Linked DNA regions of Homo sapiens. The protein of the gene in region 2 binds, or shares a complex with, the protein of the main gene of each other region. Each region holds a gene or a part of one and is shown on either strand. Other genes may lie near its edges. The genes, in order: RPA1 and ETAA1.

The links.
Region 1: the proteins of ETAA1 (region 2) and RPA1 are in contact, whole or in part, in a crystal structure (PDB 8JZV), measured with the Homo sapiens proteins. Residues at the interface, in NP_061875.2 of Homo sapiens: Thr599, Trp600, Glu601, Ala602, Asp606, Asp607, Leu609, Leu610, Tyr611, Ala613, Cys614, Asp615; in NP_002936.1 of Homo sapiens: Arg31, Ile33, Thr34, Pro39, Arg41, Arg43, Ser54, Ser55, Met57, Asn85, Leu87, Arg91, Arg92, Val93, Ile95.

Annotation. Positions count from the first base shown.
Region 1 is NC_000017.11:1,874,957-1,882,224, forward strand, and holds part of RPA1 (replication protein A 70 kDa DNA-binding subunit), read left to right. Parts: intron 1-704; coding exon 705-837; intron 838-2,255; coding exon 2,256-2,358; intron 2,359-4,036; coding exon 4,037-4,105; intron 4,106-4,258; coding exon 4,259-4,451; intron 4,452-4,603; coding exon 4,604-4,743; intron 4,744-5,586; coding exon 5,587-5,735; intron 5,736-7,268. UniProt on the Homo sapiens protein: As part of the heterotrimeric replication protein A complex (RPA/RP-A), binds and stabilizes single-stranded DNA intermediates that form during DNA replication or upon DNA stress.
Region 2 is NC_000002.12:67,407,286-67,412,810, reverse strand, and holds the end of ETAA1 (ewing's tumor-associated antigen 1), read right to left. Parts: intron 2,901-5,525; coding exon 2,773-2,900; 3' UTR 722-2,772; downstream 1-721. UniProt on the Homo sapiens protein: Replication stress response protein that accumulates at DNA damage sites and promotes replication fork progression and integrity.

The DNA.
Region 1 (7,268 bases), on a different chromosome or scaffold from region 2:
GACGTTGAGTTTTGCAGATACGTGGTGCGTATAAAAGAACTCACCTGATTCCCTGTTCTTTCCCAGCGCAGGGCAGCTGCTTAGGTTTGGATTAAGGAGGCGGAAGGGTCTTAGTGGTCACCCACTTAACATATCTTGACCAAAAACTGATTCCTGCCCTTTGCACCCGACGAAACTCATTCTTACAGACTTCATTCTAGACTTGCTAGTCCTTCAGACGCATTGAGATCTGGGAGTTGTCTGGGGATTTGGAGGCGATCTATTTGTGATAGGTCCCTTACATCCTGTCTTTCTTCATGTGACTAGTGCCTTGCCATCAGTTTTACCAGTTACAAAAGTTGATTTTCTTTTTCTCACCCATTATCTTGCCCGTTGAGGCAAGAGAAGTGTTTAAGAGGGCGGCCTTCAGAAACAGCAGTGTCTGGATTCGTCACCATTATTACTTTGACCTCGGGGCTGACATCAGCAAACATAGCAGTGAGCTGCTGTGTGCGCAGCCTTCATCCTAGATTGCTTTTGTAGCCTCCAGCCTCAGTCTCTATTTGATCTGCGTATCTCTTGCATATAAAAAGGAAAAGCTTTGCCTCTCATGTTATATGATTTCACTAGTGGCACCTCCAAAATTTAGAGTTATTGTAAAGCTTACTATAAAAAAGCTAAGTAGAATAGTAATAACTCCTTTTCGTTTGCGTTTGTTTTTAAAGGTTCTACTGTTTCTAAGGCTTATGGTGCTTCAAAGACATTTGGAAAAGCTGCAGGTCCCAGCCTGTCACACACTTCTGGGGGAACACAGTCCAAAGTGGTGCCCATTGCCAGCCTCACTCCTTACCAGTCCAAGTGAGTTGTTGCATAGAGTAAGTTCAGAGTGTACTTATGAAATCGGAGAAGCTATTATGGACTCTTGAGTTATTTATGCGTGAACTTCAGGGTCACCACCAAATACCACCAAATAGAATGGGTTTACTCTTTTTTTTTTTTTTTTTTGCTGAGGAGGAAAGGGGTACAAATTGTGGCAAACTTTTAACTCTTGTTGGAAAATATAGTAACAATAGCAATCTGCCATAGCCTGTGGGGTTTCATTCATTTTGAAAGAATTTGAAATTAAAAATACTTAATGCTTAATCAGTTGATAGTCTTATGAGTAAAAATAAATATTTCTGATAATTCAAAAGGCATTTAATCTTCTCCTATAAACAGGTGACTTCGTCTTTGGTTTAGTTGGCTAAAATAATCTGCACTATTTGTATTAAACACATGAACATACCCTGAACATAAATTTCTTTTATATGACTTTTTTCCACCAAAAATTAATTTGAAGCCGGGCGCGGTGGCTCATGCCCGTAATCCCCGCACTTTAGGAGGCTGAGGCGGGTGGATCACCTGAGGTCGGGAGTTTGAGACCAGCCTGGCCAACATGGTGAAACCGTGTCTCTACTAAAAATACAAAAATTAGCCAGGTGTTGTGGAGCACGCCTGTAATCCCCGCTACTCAGGAGGCTGAGGCAGAAGAATCGCTTGAACCCAGGAGGCGGAGGTTGCAGTGAGCCAAGATTGTGCCACTGCCTTCCAGCCTGAGTAACAGAGTGAGATTCCGTCTCTCAAGATAAATAAACAAAATAAAGTAATTTGAATAGTTAAAAATTAGAGTTCTTTTTTCAGAATCCTTCCAGATATGTTTATATTTATTCTTCAATACTCTGTAACGTAGGAAAGATATTTTTCCCTGTGAAATTATAAGTGGGGTACCTAATGTGCCCTGTGCCTCCTTTTTCCATGCTTCTCTCTAAGGTCATGCTGCTTCAGTGTGTTCTTCCTGATGGTCCACCAACATCGTGTATTCTATTCAGGGTGTGTTACGAATGAGACAGAAGTGTAACACCAGTTATATCAGTTCCCATAATTGAAAACTGTGGCAAAATATAATTGCTGGTGTTACTGTATTTTCCAGCTTAGAACCTTTCATTAAGGGGATATGGTTGCCTTGGTGATGCTTTTTGGAGAAGGGAGAGAGTTTATAAATTTACTTATTTGACAGGAGAATGAGTTAGTATTAAATCACTTTGCATGTTTTACTATTTGCTTATTCTGTAAACTGTCAAACCCATGTGTCATCTTGGGGTTTTAATTAGCTGGATTAAAATACAGGTTGGAAAACGGAATATGCGTAAGACGAGAAAGGCTGTAGGAAGATGATTTCTTACTTGATCTTTTCCAAGGAAGACCCCATACACTAATATGATCGATTTGGTTTGTAGGTGGACCATTTGTGCTCGTGTTACCAACAAAAGTCAGATCCGTACCTGGAGCAACTCCCGAGGGGAAGGGAAGCTTTTCTCCCTAGAACTGGTTGACGAAAGTGTGAGTGTTTGTCATGCTGGGGAGTGAGGGCAGTGGGCTCGCCGGGAAACAGAAGGCTCAGCTCTGCGGAGGGCAGTGGGCTCGCTGGGAAACAGAAGGCTCAGCTCTGCGGAGGGCAGTGGGCTCGCCGAGAAACAGAAGGCTCAGCTCTGCGGGCCTATGAGGTGAAGAATAATAGTAGGCCAGAGAGAAGCATGATTGTTATTGTGCTTTTCCCTCTGTCATAGTCTTTTGATGCTGTCTGGAGTAGAGGGTTAAGGTCATAAATAAAATCTTTGATCTTAAATGACAGCGTTTGTAGCAGTAGAAAGTAGTTTTCTAAATATATAAGTAGCCTCCTGGGCAGGAGAAGCTGGAAACAGTCTGATTTGCTGGCAGGTGTACTGGAAGCACTGGGAGGTGATGCCTGCTTGTGAGCGCCGTGGAGCTTTGGGACACAGCAGAAGGCACACAGTTGTGACCTCGATATGGGAGTGGTTTTGTGGGAAATGGGTTCTGACTGTGCAGATTCTCTATTTGCTTTATTTAAACTAAACAAAACCATGACGATGAGACAAAATTCCTATGCCATGGAAGTACGACAGTCTTGATAGCTGTTAATCAGTCCATTCGTTTTGCTAATAATTCCTGAAATTGCCGGGTGTGGTGGCTCACGCCTGTAATCCCAACACTTTGGGAGGCCAGGGTGCACAGATCACTTGAGGTCAGGAGTTCGAGACCAGCCTGGCCAACATAGTGAAACCCCGTTTATACTAAAAATACAAAAATTAGCTGGGTATGGTGGCAGGTGCCTGTAGTCCCAGCTACTTGGGAGGCTGAGGCAGGAGAATCAATCGCCTGAACCAAGGAGGTGGAGGTTGGAGCCAGCCAAGATTGCACCACTGCACTCCAGCCTGGGCGACAGAGTGAGACTCCATCTCAAAAATAATAATAATTCCTAAAATGTACTTCAGCATTCTTTTCAAAGTGCTGCAGATTTCCTGTTTGTTCAGACTCCCAAATAGGGAGAAAAAAATAGATGTTTTTTTTGGAAGTTGATATAACACCCAAAATGTTTGTGTGATGGCAGAATCAATATTAGAACCTAATTTTTTTTTAGAAATTATTGCTCTAATGTATGGTGGTTGGCTAAAATTTCTTGTCCACTTGTAAATTTTGGCTGACAGAAAAGCAAAAGTGAAAATCAGATCACAAGCAACTTGCAAACATGACTTACTCTGACATTTTTGGCAATGGCTCCGAATGTGAAGTGGTTTGTCACTGAGAGGGCACTGTGGAGGGAGCCGGTGAATCACCCCGTGGCAGCACCTTCCTCGTGGGCTCTGGGCGTGTCCCTCAGTATTCAACTTTTTTTGTTTTTATTGTCAGAATAAATTAAACTCGTCATTGCCGTTTTGTTCTGTTCTGTTTCTCAGTTGAGGCTAATGCAGCATGATTATGGGATCGGCTAGCTGAAATTCTCATTCTTCAGCGGGGCCAGTGACTTCAGTGTGTGACTGTAAAATGCGGGTTCCTGGGATGTCCGTAGCCCTCTCTGGACCCTGTTTGTGCAAGGGCCACTGCTCTCAAGATGTCACTTTGGTGCTAGGGTGGCCTGTGTTCTATCCCAGTGTCACTTGGGTGCTGGGGTGGCCTGTGTTCAATCCCGCAGCCCTAACCTGCCCACGTGCTTCTGCAGGGTGAAATCCGAGCTACAGCTTTCAATGAGCAAGTGGACAAGTTCTTTCCTCTTATTGAAGTGAACAAGGTATGGCCGTGCTGACTTTAGAACTGACACCGCCTGGGGGTGGAGTGCGGATGAAAAGACGCTGGCCCAGGGGAGGGGTGTGTGGTGGCAGACTAGGGGTTTCTGTCCGATTTGATGGTAGTCTCAGGTTCTGTGGCTTGGCCTCCTTCGCAGGTGTATTATTTCTCGAAAGGCACCCTGAAGATTGCTAACAAGCAGTTCACAGCTGTTAAAAATGACTACGAGATGACCTTCAATAACGAGACTTCCGTCATGCCCTGTGAGGACGACCATCATTTACCTACGGTTCAGTTTGATTTCACGGGGATTGATGACCTCGAGAACAAGTCGAAAGACTCACTTGTAGGTAAGCTCGTGTATGAGAAGGAAGAGCAGGGATGACTAGCTTTCTTTGCAGTGTACGGGGTGGTGTCAGGCTTCAGTGCTTGCCGTTCATCATTTGCTGGCGTCGGAATGGGAGTCTTGACCACCTCCTGCTAACACGTGCATGTGTTTTAGACATCATCGGGATCTGCAAGAGCTATGAAGACGCCACTAAAATCACAGTGAGGTCTAACAACAGAGAAGTTGCCAAGAGGAATATCTACTTGATGGACACATCCGGGAAGGTGGTGACTGCTACACTGTGGGGGGAAGATGTAAGTGCTGGGATGGGGTCTTCAACACGCACAGGACCTCCTGGGGTTGGGGCGTGGTCTTGTCCTATAGGATGGGGCCTTCAGCACACACAGGAGGAGCTCCTGGAGTTGGGGGAGGGAGTGGTCTTATCCTATAGGATGGGGCCTTCAGCACACACAGGAGGAGCTCCAGGAGTTGGCGGAGGGGGCATCTTGTCCTATAGGATGGGGCCTTCAGCACACACAGGAGGAGCTCCTGGAGTTGAGGGAGGGAGGGGTCTTGTCCTATAGGATGGGGCCTTCAGCACACACAGGAGGAGCTCCTGGAGCTGGCGGAGGGGGCGTCTGTTCCTATAGGATGGGGCCTTCAGCACACACAGGAGGAGCTCCTGGGGTTGGGGGAGGGAGGGGTCTTGTCCTATAGGATGGGGCCTTCAGCACACACAGGAGGAGCTCCTGGGGTTGGCGGAGGGGGCGTCTTGTCCTATAGGATGGGGCTGTTAGCACACACAGGAGGAGCTCCTCGTGGGGGCGGTTTTGTCCTATGAGTTGGGGGCTTTCACCATGTAGATGGGAAGGATTGTGCTGTCTGGTAAGTATTTAAAATCCTTTATCTTACTTCTGTGAGATTTGCTGTGATTCAAGCTTTACGCGGGGAAATGCTCTTTCCCCTAACTCTAGGAAAGCAGTGATAGTTTTGATGTGTCTCTGAGTAGATTCTCATGTGTGAGGTCTGTCTTGTATGGATTCCATGTACGCTGATTACATTCACTCTACTATTGAATGTTTGCCTTGTTTTCTATAAAAATCTTCTGTGTTCTTCCTGCTAGTGACACTTGTATATGTCTGGTGTTTCTTTTACAGGCTGATAAATTTGATGGTTCTAGACAGCCCGTGTTGGCTATCAAAGGAGCCCGAGTCTCTGATTTCGGTGGACGGAGCCTCTCCGTGCTGTCTTCAAGCACTATCATTGCGAATCCTGACATCCCAGAGGCCTATAAGCTTCGTGGATGGTAGGTTTTGTGGGGCTAAACAAAGGGTTACTTGAGGCTGGGCTTTGAGAAAAGCTGGTTACAATCAGCATGGGAGCTTTCTGCCAAGCAGAAGCCTTCGTCCCTGAGTGGTGCAGCTTCCGTGTTTCTTGAAGGCATTATGCCTTCTGTGAGGAGGGCTTTAAAGCCCTTAAACGGACAAACCTGTAATCCCAGGACAAACCTAGAGAGTCGGAGGAGGCAATTAGCATGTAAGTGCTGCCTGCTGACCTCGATCCTGCCAAAGGAGGGGACGGCCAGGCTTCAGCAGCGGTGTGCTGAAGGCGCCTTTCTTTCCAGGGTTTAGGCTCTGGGCCTCTGTGGCGTGGGGGAACACATGCTTTCTTTCTCTGTCAAGTCTTTGGTGCCGATCACATCTTCTAGTGTGTATTCACTAGACTCTGATCAAGTGTGGTGAGAACAATGGGCTTTTTGTTAGGATTAGATTGTTATTCCCAAAGCACTCAAGGGATGAGGAGAGCCTGTTAAAATCTCCTCACTGTATCTAGCTTTTTAGGACATTCAAACTCTGTCTTAAAAGAGTACTTCAAACTGAGACACAGGATGCAAGAATTGATGTGGTCAGGGAAAACACTTTCACCCAAGCTTCAATAATTCCCATAGCTGTAGTCTATGGGGGGGAAGTGTGTCAGTTTCCAGCTGTGTCTTAGGATTTAAGCAGCTAAAGAATGAGCTCATTTTACATACTCCTCCTTTGTTTTGAGTCATTTAAACCAATGGCACTGGTGTTTGACCAGTTTCATGAAGCATCTTCTGGAATGTTCATGTCACTGAGCCATCCTCATGAGTAGTACGGTCCACACGTATCTGCCGAACTGCAGGGCCCGTTCATAGTCTGACCAGAACTAGCCACAGATTTGCTTTTTTCTTATTGCTTGATTTTCTTTTAGGCTCTGGAGTTCGACTCCAGGTTAATTGCATTCCCACATTAAAATCGCATTCCCACATTAAAATTGCATTCCCACATTAATGTCTTCATCTTTTACTTGTCAATAATCATGATCCCAGTCAACATAAAAAGCACGGCTGTCCCCAGAATAAAATAACTTGGCATTGATCAAAGACAAGCTCAGTGCATACATGATACCTGGACAAGGATTAGAGATGTTTAGATCTTGGCTATAACAATGCAGAGTTTTTATTGTAAGAAGGGCCGCCTTGACTCCTGACGAGTGATCTTTGGTGGCAAATGTCTCCTTGGAGCTTTTGAAACCGTGAACTTGTGTAGCTAGTAGTGGTGAAACAGATGGATGGGCCTTGCTGTGCCCCTGTGAGGGATTTAGCCGCTTACCTGACAGGAGAAGGCAGCTGTCTGCAGCTCAGGGTAACATCCATTCTGTTAGATGGTCTCTGTTTAAGGAACCTGTTCTTTGTGTGGTTACCCACCTTGGGATGGTATTTGGCCTTTCATCTCCGGCCAGCTCCTCTCCGCCACCACTGTGTTCCCGAGCCACTTTCTCCTTGGCCCCTTTTCCTTCATATCAATTGATGTGT
Region 2 (5,525 bases):
TTCATTCAACATTTAATGAGTAACCACTGGCTATCAGTATCAGGTGGACAGAAATGAGTAAGGTGTCTCTGTTCTTGGTAACTTAAAAGCTGGTGATAATAGGGTAGTATATAAGGCAGTGTTTCCCATGGTAGGATACATGTCTGCATACCACTGTCTGCAGTAAGCAACCCCAATGTTCCTGGGGTCCGAGTCATCTGTCTATAACAGAAAAAGATGAATGAGAGATAAGCTCCGCTTTCAACAGGCTCTTTTTGGAAATAATGGCATTATTAGCATCAGTCTGAGATGCAGAAACAGCAGCGGAACTTTAGGGGGAAATTGCCAGGCTACCAGTTGTCCCTTCCCCAGATTCCCTATAGACTAGGAAAGAGAAAAGCCAGGCAAACTATATAGTCAGCCCTCTGCATGCTCATTTATGGGCCATTCACCCCCTAATGTTTCCAACAAGGGCTAAAGGAAGAGTCAGGATAGGAAAGGAGAGTGGTATGAACAGGAGCAGTGACCCTAAAAACCAGTCATGTGAGGTTCAGATGTACAGGGCCATTACACCTGCCACCACCCAGAAGTGCTATAAAAGTTTTTTTTTTTTTTTTTTTTTTAAAAAAAGGGAGTCACTTAGAGAAAACTATTACGTAAATAATACTATGAGCTGTATAAGAATTTGGCAGAATTACCAGAGACACAAAATGACAAATTATAAAATAAGATTTATACAACTAAACAACACATAAAGGCATTATAGTATTGCTCAATGAAAGACACAATAATTAGTACCATTATGATCAGAGAGAAGCAATCAATTCCAGTGAAGATGGTTAGGTACGAGGTTCAAACAGACTTATTAGGCTGAGTCTAAATGAATGAACAGAATAGGCTAAAAGTACTCTTAAAAAAGCAAGCAGTAAGCAGGGAGGAGCTTAAGCAAGGACAGAGATATCCAAAGCATAGTCAGAACACAGTGAAGCCACTTTTAGTAAAAGATTCTCAGCTCTTTATTTTTGTACATAGAAACTACTTGCATTTATCTAGGTTATTATATATTCCTGGAAAAATAATATAGGTTAGCTAAACTCCAGTACTCCACTGTAGATATGAAAATACCATTTTTGATGTACAGTCTCCAACTTAAAATGGTTGACTTACAATTTTTCAACTCTAACGTGATGCAAAAGTGATATGCGTCCAATAGAAACCATACTTTAAAGTTTGATTCTTTCCCAGGCTAGAGATATGTGGTACAACATTCTCACGATGCTGGGCATCAGCTCAACTGATACTCTACAGTGTGCCGTATTGCCAGATGATGTGCCCAACTCTAGGCTAATATAAGTGATTTGAGCATGTTTAAGGTAGGCTAAGCTAAGCTATGTTGTCTGGTAGATTAAGTGTAGTAAATGCATTTTTAACTTAAGGTATTTTCAACTCATGATGGGTTTATTGGGATGTAACTACACGGTAAGTTGAGGAGTATCTGTATAGCTATAGGGCAGTAACTACCATATTATCACAGCTTTGAGACACTTGATAGTGATAAATGCCACACCATGACAGGTGTTTCATATCTCTAACTTTCTCTAGATCTCCTAAAACCATTTAAGAGGAATAAAGCATCCTCCCTGCCTTACGCCCTCTAGTTGGACTTCTATTACTGGTTTAGCAAATTCCAAATAGGCAAAATGGCAAAAAAAGAAAAAAACAAAACAGTAATAGAGAAGAAAAGATGAGTCAACTAAGTAAATTAATTGAGGGGAAAATTACAGTTACAGAAAAACTGAAAAGAAAAAAGATTCTCATTTTTATATCCTGGAAAGACTAATTCTTTAAAGCAAAATAAGGAACAATGAGCATTATTATCAAACAGTCCTTATTGTGCTTTTAATTACATCTTTTGTTTTATACTAGAAAATAATACTCCCTCAAGTTATTTTATGTACTGATACTTTGAAACAAATAGTATAATTGTTTAGGTGTCCAAATAAATCATTCTAATTGTAGCACAGCATTAACTTGCCTATGACTTTGAAAACAGTATTACTTTTTCTCACCGATACAATAAGGAAGCTGGACCAGATGACATATGAAGTTTCTGCCAGTTCTAAATGTTAATGATGCCACATTACTTTTGTAGACAATCCACTACTTCTTTTCCTCTATGTTAGACTTCTAAAATCAAAGTTTTCCTAAATATGGTGGAAAGTTTCCAAAATGTGTCACATTTTAGAATTATTAAAATTCAAATCCACTTCTAAGAACTGAACATAATTTCCTTACAAATAAAAAGTCCTTTATTTCATATCAACCATGTTCCTAGAAATATGAAAGTATTAATTAAAATCTGGAAGTGTATAAAAACCTTAAGCAACAGTTAATGAAAGTAAAACTACAAAAACAGTCTCTACTAACTTAGAAAGTTGAAGTTTTTTATTAGGAAAAGACATTAGAATAGGAAATAACGTAGATTACCTCTTTTTTGATGATCCTCTGCAATAATAGCATTTAAAAATATAACTACTTTCCTCTGTATAATATCCGTACATAATTGCTAACTTTCCTGAATTTCCAAAACTTTTGTATTTAATGACTTTCAAATACATGTCCAAGGAAATGTTTCATTTACCATTGCAAACATTGATTTATTAAATAAAGTAGAAGTCCAGGCTTTATAAAAGTCAGCATTACATTTCTCACAGAGAAATCAAGAAAAAAAATTTCCTATCAATCACAGATAGTTATCAGCAGTCTTCGTGAAGTCTTCCAACTAATATTTCATTAAAGAAATGAAGTGGGAGCTGCATTTACAGATGAGGCTCGTGCTTTAGCCATTCTCCGAACCAGTGCTTCTTGTCTTTTTCTCTGAATTTCTTCAGGAGAACACTTTCTATTTTTCTCTTCTTCCTCTAAAAATTCAACAAAAGATGAGTTTTACTTTTATAGCCTATAAAGTCATTCAATATGTGCTTTAATTTTTGCTTTTTTTAATCACCCAGATTTGCCATATTAGTTGGCTATTAAATCAAACTAAACTACTGAATATAAAATTCTAAGTACATAATACAGATATAATGCTCCAGTTCAAAAGAAAATCAAGCACTGATGGATCTGTCTCTATTTGATACATTCTTTTCACAGTGTGATAAAATTCAGTTTGATAGAAAACTGACTACCCACCAAATAATTCTTGTGGACAATGACATCTAATTTATATGACCCACGAATAAATATATCTTTAAAAAGGATACATTGGGATTTAAAATGTTATGTAAACTTTAATTGGAAAATAGTCAAAATATAAGGAATTAAATTAGTTATCAATCTCAAACAGTGTATATTTACATAAGATGTTATATTAATATTCACATCTACTTTTCCCTATAGAGCTATAAAATTTTCATTTCATCCACTGAGGAAATATATTTTAGAGTGATAAAATGAAATCTGTCATGTCAAACTGGTTACCTGTGATTCACTGTCAGAAATTATATTTTTATTTGGAGGATGCATTTTGGAGAAACTTTAAAATAATCTCAATTAACTTAGTAAGTTGAGGCTTTGTATTAGAAATCACTTTCTCATTTAAATGATATTTTAAGTTTAAGACTATCACCCTAATACATATTTAAGTATATCATTTATTCTGACATTTAGAAAAAGATACACAATTTATGAGACATTTCTCTTGTTAACTAACAGAGGCATTTTCAAAATATATAATCTGCCTCCCTTTCCTTTCTTGGTATAATCAGAAATGGGAGGGGGTATTCAGGCTAAGAAATACATATTTTAAATAAGTTTCCCAGATGATTTTGATGGCTTTTATTTCCTAAGCTATTTACCTAACAGACTGTAGATATTTTTTCCTAAAGAGAGACACCAGAAGATACTTTCTAATTAGCTTGACTAATTATCTAATACTTTTAGTCTCAAAGCTGAGAAACACAACAAACTCAGACTACACATCCAAAGACTTTACACTGAATTTGACTGTGTGGAAAGAAAACAGGTTAATAATCTGTAACAGCAGAAAACATAACTTCCTAAAGTTGGTCTTACAATTTGCTTGGCAATATTATAGAAAATAATTTCAAATGATAATCAGGTCACACCATGAAAATTTGATTTAGGGACTCATCCATTTTTCCCATCAGTCTTTCCTTTAACTCAATCTATAATAAAAATACACAATGAAGTCTTAAAATATTGTAAAGTACTAAGCAAAAGCTGCTCTTCTTAATCTTGATCTTACAGTGCAAGGGTCAGTAATTTTTTTTTTTCCTGTAAAGAAAGAGTCAGAAAGCAAGAATGTTAACCTTTGAGTATCTTGTTGCAACTGCTCACCTGTACCACTGTAGCAAAAATAGTTATGGATAATGTATAAATAACTGATGAGCTGTATTCAAATAAAACCTGTTTATGGACAATGAAATCTGGATTTCATATAATTTTCAAATGTCATGAAATATTATTCTCCTTTTAATTTTTTTCCAACCATTTAAAATGTAAAAATCATTTTTAGTGTGCTGGCTATACATAAACAAGCTGCAGGCTGGATTTGGACAGATCATAGTTTGCCAACTCCTGCCTGAAATAAATGTGGGAGTTAAGTGAGTTTTGTTTCAGAGATACTTCCCTGGAGAGCAGCTTGCTACATACCAAAGTAAAAGGAAGTAGAAACAATAGAAAACATCAACAAAGTTAATAGTAATTAAGAGATTCAGTACTATCAATAAGTTTAAAGAAAATATTGATAAGGTAAGCTAAAACGCAGATTATCCATAAAAAATGCAGATAGATTGGTAGATAGGAGTTTTGGGAAAACTCAAATACTCCAGGAGGTTTAGTCTTTTATAGAATTATAACTATAGTTGACCCTTGAACAACATGGGCTTGAACTGGCAAGTCCACTCATTTGTAGGTTGTTTTCTGCATCTGACACCCCTGAGACAGCAAGACCAACTCCTACTCTTCTTCCTTCTCGGCCTACTAGACATGAAGATCATGAGGATGAAGACCTTTATGATGATCCACTTTCACTTAATGAATAGTAAATATTATTTTCTCTTCCTTATTTTCTTAATAACACTTTTCCAGCTTATTGTAAGAATACAGTATATAATACATATAAGAGCATACAAAATATGTATTAATTAATTATGTTATCGGAAAGGTTTCTGGTCAACAGCAGGCTATTAGCAGTTAAGTTTTTAGGGGATCAAAAGTTATACACAGACTTTCGACTGCAAATCAGATCAGCGCCTCTAACCCCCACACTGTTCAAGGGTCAACTCTATCTGTAAATAAAGTCATGCTAGGAACATGCTTGATTTAGTTACAATATGCTCACTTTAATACAAATTTAAATACTTAAAATTATTATAGATTGAGAACAATTTTTAATATTTCAAAATATCTAGTTTGGGCTATCATGTAAAGCAAGCTTGTCCAACCCGCAGCCCGCAAGCTACCCGCAGCCCAGGATGGCTTTGAATGCAGCCCAACACAAATTCATAAACTTTTTTACAACA